2 separate regions of the Homo sapiens genome follow, and region 1 is linked to region 2. Evidence: fine-mapped expression QTL. A gene starts in region 2. The other region holds a variant in brackets. All regions are shown on one strand. Distances are between the middles of the regions. Region 1 has its middle 11 kb from the start of MRPS33. Region 2 holds the start of BRAF (B-Raf proto-oncogene, serine/threonine kinase).

Evidence for each region. PIP is the estimated chance that this variant, and not a neighbour inherited with it, causes the effect. A credible set is the group of variants that fine-mapping cannot tell apart.
Region 1: its variant is the best candidate, but not a certain one, in a credible set for the expression of BRAF in subcutaneous fat (FUSION, PIP 0.57).

Annotation. Positions count from the first base shown.
Region 1 is chr7:141,022,950-141,028,332 of GRCh38, forward strand. No RefSeq gene overlaps it. Among named protein-coding and RNA genes, the nearest start is that of MRPS33, 11 kb to the left of the region's middle. RefSeq lists a silencer at 1,906-2,106. The variant G/GT (reference allele first, on the strand shown) is at 2,791.
Region 2 is chr7:140,922,159-140,927,541 of GRCh38, forward strand. It overlaps BRAF (B-Raf proto-oncogene, serine/threonine kinase), which reads right to left and starts at 2,771. Exons shown (of 18, transcript NM_004333.6): 1 at 2,408-2,771. The coding sequence starts at 2,545. It overlaps LOC105375536 (a long non-coding RNA gene), which reads left to right and starts at 2,934. Exons shown (of 5, transcript XR_002956518.2): 1 at 2,934-4,344; 2 at 4,913-5,031. RefSeq lists a silencer at 2,594-2,663.

The DNA.
Region 1 (5,383 bases), 100 kb after region 2:
CAAATTTATTGACTTGCATATGTTAAACCAACCCTGCATCCCTGATATGAAACCCACTTGATCATTGTGTATTATCTTTTTGATATGCTGTTGGATTCAGTAGCGAGTATTTTGTTGAAGATTTTTGCATCTATATTCATCAGGGATATTGATCTGTAGTTTTCTTTTTCTTTCTTTCTTTTATTTTTTGGTAAGTCCTTTCCTGGTTTTGGCATTAGGGTAACACTGGCTTCATAGAATGATTTAGGGAGGATCCTCTCTTTCTCTATCTTTTGGAATGGTTTCAGTAGGATTGGTACCAATTTTTCTTTGAATGTCTGATAGAATTTAGTTATGAACCCATCTGGTCCTGGACCCTTTTTTTGTTGGCAATTTTAAAATTACTGTTTCAACCTCATTACTTGGTTTTGGTCTGTTTAGAGTTTCTATTTCTTCCTGATTTAATCTACAAAGGTTGTATTGATTTTGTCTTTTCAAAGAACCAGCTTTTTGTTTCTTTTATCTTTTGTGTATGTGTGTTTTTTTGTTTCAGTTTCATTTAGTTCTGCTCTGATCTTTGTTATTCATTTTCTTCTACTGGGTTTGGGCTTGGTTTGTTCTTGTTTCTCTAATTCTTTGAGATGTGAGCTTAGATTGTCAGTTTGTGCTCTTTCAGACTTTTTGATGTAGGCATTTAATACTCTGAACTTTCCTCTTAGCACCGTTTTGCTGTATCCCAGACATTTTGATAGGTTGTATCACTATTATCATTCAGTTCAAAGAATTTTTTAATTTCCATCTTGATTTCATTGTTGACCCAAAGATCATTCAAAAGCAGATTATTTAATTTCCATGTATTTGTTTTGTTTTGAGGGTTCCTTTTAGAGTTAATTTCCAATTTTATTGCACTGTGATCTGAGAGAGTACTTGATATGATTTCAGTTTTCTTAAATTATTGAGACTTGTTTTGTGGCCTATCTTATGGTCTATCTTGGAGATTGTTCCTTGTGCTGATGAAAGTAATGTATATTCTGCAGTTGGGTAGAATGTTCTGTAAATATCTGTTAAGTGCATTTGTTCTAGGGTATAGTTTAAGTCCATTGTTTCTTTGTTAACTTTCTGTCTTGACTTGTTTAGTGCTGCCAGTGGAGTACTGAAGTCTTCCACTGCTATTGTATTGCCAGCTATCTCATTTCTTAGGTCTAGTAGTGATTGTTTTATAAATTTAGAAGCTCCAGTTTTAGGTGCATATATATTAAGGATTGTGATATTTTCCTGTTGGACTAATCCTTTTATTTTTATATAATAATCCCTCTTTGTCTTTTTAAACAGTTGTTGCTTTATAATCTGTTTTGTCTGATATAAGAAAAGCTAATCCTGCTCCCTTTTGGTTTCCATTTGCAAGGAGTATTTTTTTCTATGCTTTAACCTTAAGTTTATGTGAGTCCTTATGTGTTGGGTGAGTCTCTTGAAGACAGCAGATATTTGGTTGGTGGATTTTTATCCATTCTGCCATTCTGTATCTTTTAAGTGGAGCATTTAGGCCATTTATATTCAACATTAGTATTGAGGTGTAAGGTACTGTTCTCTTCATCATGCTAGTTGTTGCTTGACTACCATTTTTTTCATTGAGTTATTGTTTTATAGGCCCTGTGAGATTTATGCTTTAAAGGGGTTCTATTTTGGTGTACTTCAAGGTTTTGTTTCAATATTTACAACTCCTTTTAGCATTTCTTGTAGTGCTGGCTTGGTAGTGGTGAATACTCTCAGCATTTGTTGTCTGAAAAAAACTTTATCTCTTCTTCATTTATGAAACTTAGTTTTGCCAGCTACAAAATTCTTGGCTGATAATTGTTTTGTTAAAGGAGGATAAAGATAGCATCCCAATTCCTTCTGGCTTGCAGGGTTTCTGCTGAGATGTCTGCTGTTAATCTTATAGGTTTTCCTTTATATGTTACCTGATGCTTTAGCCTCACAGCTCTTAAGATTCTTTCCCTCATCTTGACGTTAGATAACATGATGACTGTGTGCCTGTGTTATGATCTTTTTGCAATGAATTTCCCAGGTGTTCTTTGAGTTTCTTGTATTTAGATGTCTAGATCTCTAACAAGACCAAGGACATTTTCCTTGATTATTCCTTCAAATATGTTTTGCAAACTTTTGGATTTCTCTTCTTCCTCAGGAGGGCCAATTATTCTTATGTTTGGTTGCTTAACATAATCCCAAATTTCTGGAGGCTTTGTTCATTTTTTAAAATTCTTTTTTCTTTGTCTTTGTTGAATTGGGTCAGTTAGAAAGCCTTGTCTCTGAGCTCTGAAGTTCTTACTTCTACTTGTTCGATTGTATTGTTGAAATTTTCCAGTGTATTTTGCATTTCTCTAAGTGTGTCTTTCATTTCCAGATGTTGTGATTGCCTTTTCTTTATGATGTCTGTTTCTCAGGAGAGTTTTTCATCCATATCCTGTAGTGTATGTGTGTGTGTGTGTGTGTGTGTGTGTGTGTGTGTGTGTGTGTGTGTGTGTTTGAAGGAGTCTCGCTTTGTCACCCAGGCTGGAGTGCAGTGTCATGATCTTGGCTCACTGCAACCTCTGCCTCCCAGGTTCAAGCAATTCTCCTGCCTTAGCTTCCCGAGTAGCTGGGATTACAGACACATGCCACTATGCCTGGATAGTTTTTGTATTTTTAGTAAAGACAGAGTTTCCCCACATTGGCCAGGCTAGTTTTGAACTCCTGACCTCAGGTGATCCACCCACCTCGGCCTCCCAAAGTGCTGGGATTACAGGTGTGAAGGTGTGAGTCACTGCCTGACCT[G/GT]TTTTTTTTTTTTTTTTTTTGAGATGGAGTCTCACTCTGTCGCCCAGGCTGGAGTGCAGTGGCGCGATCTCGGCTCGCTGTAAGCTCCGCCTCCCAGGTTCACGCCATTCTCCTGCCTCAGCCTCCTGAGTAGCTGGGACTACAGGCACCTGCCACCTTGCCTGGCTAGTTTTTTGTGTTTTTTAGTAGAGACTGGGTTTCACCATGTTAGTCAGGATGGTCTCGATCTCCTGACTTCGTGATCCACCCACCTTGGCTTCCCAAAGTACTGGGATTACAGGCGTGAGCCACCAGGCCTGGCTTTTTTTATTTTTTAAGACAAAGTCTTGCTCTGTCACCCAGGCTGAAGTACAGTGGCATGATCTCGGCTCACTGCACCCTCTGCGTCCTGGGCTCAAGCGATTCTCCTGCCTCAGCCTCCTGAGTAGCTGGGATTACAGTTGCCCATGACCACACCTGGCTAATTTTTGTAGTTTTAGTAGAGCAGGGTTTCACCATGTTGGCCAGGCTGGTCTCGAACTCCTGACTTCAGATAATCTTCCCACCTTGGCCTCCCAAAGTGCTGGGATTACAGGCATGAGCCACCATGCCTCCCCCGGCCTGTTTTTTTTAAAAAAAATTTCTTCAAATTGGTTTTTACCTTTCTCTGTTACCTCCTTGAGTAGCTGGATAATCAACTGTCTGCATTCTTTATCTGGCAATTTAGAGATTCTTCTTGGTTTGGATCCATTGCTGGAGAGCTAGTGTGATCTTTTGAGTGTGTGATAGAACCTTGTTTTGTAATATTACCAGACTTACTTTTCTGTTTCTTTTTCATTTGGGCAGACTGTTTCAGTGGAAAGATCTGGAACTCAAGGGCTGCTGTTCAGGTTCTTTTGTCCCACAGGGTAATTCCTTGATGTGGTGCTCTCCCCCTTCCCCTAGGAATGGGGCTTCCTGAGAGCTAGACTGCAGTGATTGTTATTGCCCTTCTGAGCCCTGGGCTGGTGCTAGGCAATGTCTGCAAAGAGTCCTGTGATATGATCCATCTTCAAGTCTCCCAGCTGTGGATACCAGCACCTGCTCTGGTGGAGGTGGCAGGGGAGTGAAGTAGACTTAGACTCAGTTAAAGTCCTTGGTTGTAGTTTTGTTTAGTGTGCTGGTTTTCTCGAATGCTGGTTATGCTAGCAGTGAAGTTGTCACACAGATAGACTCGGGACCTCTGGTTGGCCAGGATGTTGCAGGTGGTGGAATTAGCTATTGTTTTCTCCTTCTTTGGAGCAGGATTGTTCTCTTATGAGTTGCTGTAATGGCTTGAGTTGGTTGGCCTCCAGCCAGGAGGTGGTGCTTTCAAGAGAGCCCCACCTGCAGTAGTAGAAGGGGGATATAAGCTTGCCCTACATTTGCCAGATAAGTAATCGGCTTTCTCAGGTCATGGGTGGGGCCATAGAGCTCCCACGAGTTTATGTCTTTTGTCTTTGGCTGCCAGGGTGGGTAGAGAAAAACCATCAGGAGGGGGCAGTGTTAGGCGTGTCTGAGCTCAGACTCTCCTTGGGCAGAACTTGCTGTGCCACTGTGGGGGATAGGGGGATGCTTCTCAGGCCAATAGAATTATGTTCCCAGGGGGATTGTATTTGTCTCTGCTGCATCATTACAGGTCACCAGGGAAGTGGGGAAAGCCAGCAGTGACAGGCCTCACCCAGCTCCCATAGCCAGCAAAGCTATTCTCACTCCCTTTGTGCCCCACCAACAGCACTAAATTTATATCCAGACAGCTGGCAAGCAGGGCTGAGATCTTGCTCCAGGCTACTAGCCTCCCCAGTGAGAAAGCAAGCAGGGCCCTCAGGACTTGCTCCTCCCCACCTGCCCGCACGATCTCAGCTCACTGCAACCTCTGCCTCCTGGGTTCAAGTGATTCTCCTGCCTCAGCTTCCCAAGTAGCTGGGACTACAGGCACGCACCACCACACCCAGTTAACTTTTGTATTTTTAGTAGAGACGCAGTTTTACTGTGTTGGCCAGTCTGGACTTGAACTCCTGACCTCAGGTGGTCCACCTGCCTCAGCCTCCCAAAGTGCTGGGATTACAGACGGGAGCCACCATGCCCAACCATTATGTAGTTTTAATCAAAGTTATGGATACAGGAAAGCAAAGTTTTCTTCTGGTGGTACATACTACTACAAATAACCTTTTCTTCCTTTTTGTTTCTGTTACTCCCTTCTCATATATTTGTTGCATACTATTTTATACAAAGAAGTTGATTAGTAAAAGAGAAATAAAACTTAGCAATGTAGGAAAAATTATCTTATCAAATGAATTTAAATACATTTTCTCTTACATCAGCACAGTTAAAAATGTCAATTTTTTGTGAAAGGATTTAACAGTGCATAGATATATAAAGACATATTATCAAAGAGTTTTTGCATCCCCCCAGGTCCTTTATTTCCTATGTTCCCTCAGTTTCTTGTTTCAAGACTTACAACCATAGAACTCCATTTACCCTCCACCCTTTATATGCTAGTGTTGTCTTAAGTATTACATCTGCATATATTAGAACTCTTACCAGGGGATGTGATAATTTTTGCTTTCAACAGTCTATTTTAATAGTCTCATCT
Region 2 (5,383 bases):
CCTGGGTAAAGAGGACAGTAGGAAACACTTGTTTTTTAACCAAGTAAAATGAGAGTATCCTTATAGTTTCAGAAGATATGAATATGCTTTCCAATTACTGGCAATTTATACTTAAATTCAGCTAGCCTAGAGGTTCTCAAGGATTGGTACATGGGAACTGCTCAAGACATGTGCCAAATACAGAAATCCATGGCCCTCGCTCTCACTTACTAAATCAGACTCTTCAGGGGGTACAGTTCCAAACAATCTGGCCCTTTCAAATAAAATAGAAGGGTAGAGATTTTACTTCACAAAAGCCTTCTTTACAGAATTGCAAACGGTTCTAATAACTCTGCAGCAAAGTTCCCAAGATAAACAATTTTATAATCAGAGAATTACAATTTCATAACCCCTACTTATTACTTCACTCATTGTTCCACTCTGTAGTAGTCTTCAAACAAGATACAATTCAACAAAACTACACATCTATTACAGAGTAAAATAAAATCCAGAGGCACCTGTGCCTGGTTAAGACAAAGGCATATCCGATTCCTGGAGAAAACAGACAGCAGATGTGACCCCTAGTATTTATCCATTAAAAACAATGTATCCTAAAAATAAATTTCCATGTCAAAGGAAACAAAGATGTTTATAAATAAGAAGGAACGTGGAGGTGTGGAGAAGAAAAGAGGAAGCTTCAGAAAGTTAAGTACCAAAAGCCAGGAAACAAGGCAAAATGAATGGTAACTGGAAACAAGGGAAACAGAATAAACTAGGAAATTGAAGTAGAGAAGAGCTTTCTCCTTAGAAATCAAGAAGCTGGGGGAAAGGAACAGATATGAGAGGAAACTGATCTAAGCAAAAATGCATACTGAAAAGTGGAATGATTTTAAGAAACTTAAAAATGAGAAATTTTAGAACAGATCAAATGATGGTACAGAACACATTTTGGGCATGTAACAAAGATGATATAAAGAGTAGAAAACAAACATTATCATAAACAAGCTGATGCTGAATAAAGCAAGCATATTGGATGAATTTCCAAAGATGATGATGCAAAAAAAAAATTGCAGAGAGAATGAGATGTTATGAGAATTGAGAAATTAGATGTTAATAGTAAGTAGCAAAGAGAACTTCGAGCAAAGTCAACAGAGTAAGTCACATTACCTAATCAATAACTGTAAACCACAATTATTATACCATATCTTATTTGTAAAGCATAATAAAGTATTATTTTCTGTAATAAAATACCAAATATTTGTAATAAATTTTATGTAATAAAAAAACGTAAATAATTTGACACAGTGCTAAGAGGCTGACTAATGCAAAAACAGGCTGAGAGAAGCAAGGACTGGAGAGGAAAAAGGAAAAGGAAAAAAATAGGACAAAAAGGAGGACAACACTAAGAAATCAATCAGACCTATAAAAATGGGTAGGAATAAAGAGGTGTGAATGCACAATGGACGACTAGCCAAAAAGTGCCAGTAGTGCAAGCGCGAAAAGAGCCAAGTGAAACCTGATGGAATCTTGACAGCTTCTGGGCTCAGAAAACAAGTAGCTCCAAAGTGTCCAGGAGGATTTGTGAAGATAACAACAGACAACAATGTTAGGGAGTGGTGAGATCAAGTACAGAGCCTCAAGAGGACCAGGGTAAGAGAAGTGCAAAAATGCTCTTAAGTGGGAGCTGGGGTTAGAAGGCAGGCAGGTCCGACAACTGGAAAATGAGCGGGCGGTAGATGGGAATAGAATGGGGGTTACCAATCAGCGACAGAGCGCTGACAAACATTAGGAACAGAGGACCAGAGACCAGAAAAGGCATCGGAAACTGCGATTTAGGATTGAAAAAGTAAAGACTAAATCAAAATAATTTGCTGGGTAAAACAGGTGAAGAGAAATCCCCAAATAGAAAAGTGAAAAAGGGCAGCGGACTGAGAAGGGGGGCAGTCCGGGAGAGGAGAGAGGAAATGATGAGCCCCATCATCCCCACGACCATGTAAGAATTACACGCGACAGTAACTCGGGCTGTTGTCTCAGCCCCAGCAACTAACCTATATCCTCCACGTCGAGGCCGCCGCCGCCCCCACCCCACAGAGATGCAGAGCTGGATACTTCAGCCAATCGTGACCTTCTCGGACCAACCCTGAGTTTCGCCCCCTATTGATAGCCTCCCGCTCAACCACCGCTGCCCCAATCCCCACATCTGGGGTGGGGGCCAGGGAAACCCCCCGGGCCATTGTGTGTGTTTACGTAGGAAGGCGCTGCATGACGGAGAGGGACACGGGGGCGATGCCCACCTCCCAGCCCGCGGAGCTGGCCCGAGAAGGTGGCTGAGGGCATCAAGCCCCCACCGCCGCCTCTTTCCAAAATAAACACCAGCCAGCCGCCGAGCCCGGAGTCGGGAGGGCGGCAGGGTGGCGCCAGCACTCACCTCCTCCGGAATGGCAGGGTCCGCAGCCGAAGAGGCCGCGGCGCCGGCGCCGGCGCCGGCCTCGGGCTCCATGTCCCCGTTGAACAGAGCCTGGCCCGGCTCCGCGCCGCCACCACCGCCACCGCTCAGCGCCGCCATCTTATAACCGAGAGCCGGGGCCCGAGCGGCCGCTGTCGGGCGGGGAGGGGGAAGGGAGGCGGAGAGCTGGGGGAGGCGGAGGCGGAGGCGGAGGCGGAGGAGCGGGGGGCGCGGGGGGCGCGGGGAGGAGCGGCCCGGGCGGCGCCGCGGGCGGAGGGCGCCTGGGCCACCTCAGGTACCGGCCCGCGGCCCCGGGCGCAGCCGAGCCTGAGGGGATTGGGGGAAGGACGCTAGGCGGGGGTGCGGGGGGGAGCGGGGGAAGGGGGCGGAGACGACGAGAAGTCGCCGCGGCAACGGCGTCACCCGCGTGTCACGGTCGTGACGTCACCCCGGTGCGTGACGTAATCTGAGGCGCGCCTTCGCGCCGTCGTCCGGGGAGGGTTTTTTCCCTTCTAACCACCCGCGCTCTCACACTTTGCCTCCGCTCCGCCGTTTCCATGGCTCCGGTTTCCTACTTTCCTCTTGTCTCCTCCGTCCTCAGCCTGTTCTGTAATGTGGGATTTACTAGAAGAGCAGGGCTGGTGTTCGAGGAGGAGAAGTTGAAATCCTAGAGGGAGGAAGGCGGGGAAGCCAATACTACTTGCTATTTCCACTGCAATGAACGTCTCTGTGTCATCAAAATAAGAACTTCAACCCCAAGGTTGAAACAGCCAAGCAGAATTTGATGGAAATATATTTAGGAACAGCTAAATTAGCAGTGCGACGCGTGTTTTCTTTTCATTGAAGAATTCAGCCAGTTAAAACGAGTCTAAATGGAAGTCTGAAAGCTTTTTCTTCATTGTTGAGGAATAAAATATTTCGTGTATTTTTCGTTTTCCAGATTCATTCATTTAACAAATATCAGTTGAGCACTTTCCATGCCGTAGGGCCTGTACAAGGCACATAGCATTCTAGACATCTGAAGCATCAAAACTAATCATTTTTATTTTGAAGAAAATCACTCAAAATATTTTATGTACTTTGTGCCTTTCATGAACAGAATATTCCAAGCATTCTCTGCAAAATACGCATGAAAACAATTGGGAGAGAAGAGGTCAATTATCTTTGAGAAGCCCAATTACAGAATGAAATTCAATTCATTATTAAAAATACATGGATCTAATAAAGAATAAATAATTGGAAAAGAAAAGTTTAAGGAAGAGAGAAACGGGAATGAGAAACAATTACTGTGGGCTCCCAATGGCCTGGAGTGAATCACCAAAGTAACCTAAACATGAAGTCATGAAAAACTAAGTGGATTCTGCCTTTTAGTACTTCCCATCATGGGGGAAGTCACCAGCGACCTCCTTACTGTATTTTGGATGATTCAAGAAATAGAAAGGTGTCCTACTGACTTCTGAAACAGGGTGTCTTCATATTGATTAGGGTCACCGTAAGCCTGGGAGCTGATGCTTACTCTCAGGTAAAGGATGCTGTGTGAGGCTGCTTGATGAATGAGAATACTAACATTCTTCTGCATTGAAAAAATATAACCTATAAGATGAACATTGTAGGCCGGGCGCAGTGGCTCACGCCTGTAATCCCAACACTTTGGGAGTCTGAGGCGGATGGATCACCTGAGGCCAGGAGTTTGAGACCAGCCTGGCCAACGTAGTGAAACCTCATCTCTATTAAAAGTACAAAAAATTAGCCTGGTGTGGTGGTGCACACTTGTAATCCCAGCTACTCAGGAGCCTGAGGCAGGAGAATCATTTGAACCTGGGAGGCAGAGGTTGCAGTGAGCCGAGATTGCACCACTGAACTCCAGCCTGGGCAACAGAGCCAGACTCTGTCTCCAAAAAAAAAAAAACATGAACATGGTATGCTTTGTTAACTTCATTGTACATTCTCCTCCAAGTAGGAAAGTTTCTATGAGGAAATAAATTTAAATCAAAAAGTGGCTTGGCAAATGTAGAGTAAATGATCACAAGGGATGATGTCATCAAGCTAAACTAATCTGAAGCACCCTTTACTATAAGGACATACTTAGAAGCAGACTGAAATAGCACCATTAGCCAGTCATGGCACCTTTTCCCCTTTCATCACCCTTTCATCACCCTTTCATCAGAAACACAACTGGCAAGATTTTTGTTAATTCTCTAACTGTCCTATTTCATTTTTAAAAAATTAGCTGCTAAAAATGTTATATCATTATAACACTTCCTTATAACATTAAAAGTTTTAAAGGCTTTTATCCTCACATTGGTTCCATTTTGAATTCTAGCCTTATTTGTCAGTATCAGTCTGTAGTTCAGATCTTCCATGATTATTTCTCCACAGGATGACTGGTCTCATCCATTTAATATTGATTCTTCTTAGCGTTCTACTCATTTGACATTTTCTGACCTTGCCTTAAAATTCTGGATATATCCTGTTTTACTTCCTTAGGCCATTCTAAAGTCCTACAGTATCCAGATGAGAAACGAGAGAAAGCATAAGCTTTGGAGTCCAAAGATCAGGATTTTAGCGTCAGCACTCCACACCTTAGCTATACAATCTCAAAGCAGGTAAGCTTAAATCCCTGTTTGTTGTTTTGTTTTTTAATCTATAAAATGAAGGTTATAATAATGCTAGCCCAACCTGCCAAACTATCATTGTGAGGATCAAACATTATACTTTCACCCTTTGAAAAATATAAAATTACCCTCTCAGTCAGAATTCAGACAAGGCATAGCAAAGATGGCTTATCTCTGCTCCATGATGTCTGGGGCTTCAGCTGGGAAGACTCAGTGCCTGGGGGTGTCTCAATGGTTGAAGACTGAAATCCTTTGGAGGCATATTTTCTGACATGGCTGGTGGTTGAAGCTGGGACCTCAGATAGGGCAGTCAGCCAGAATACCTAAATCTACTCTTCATGTG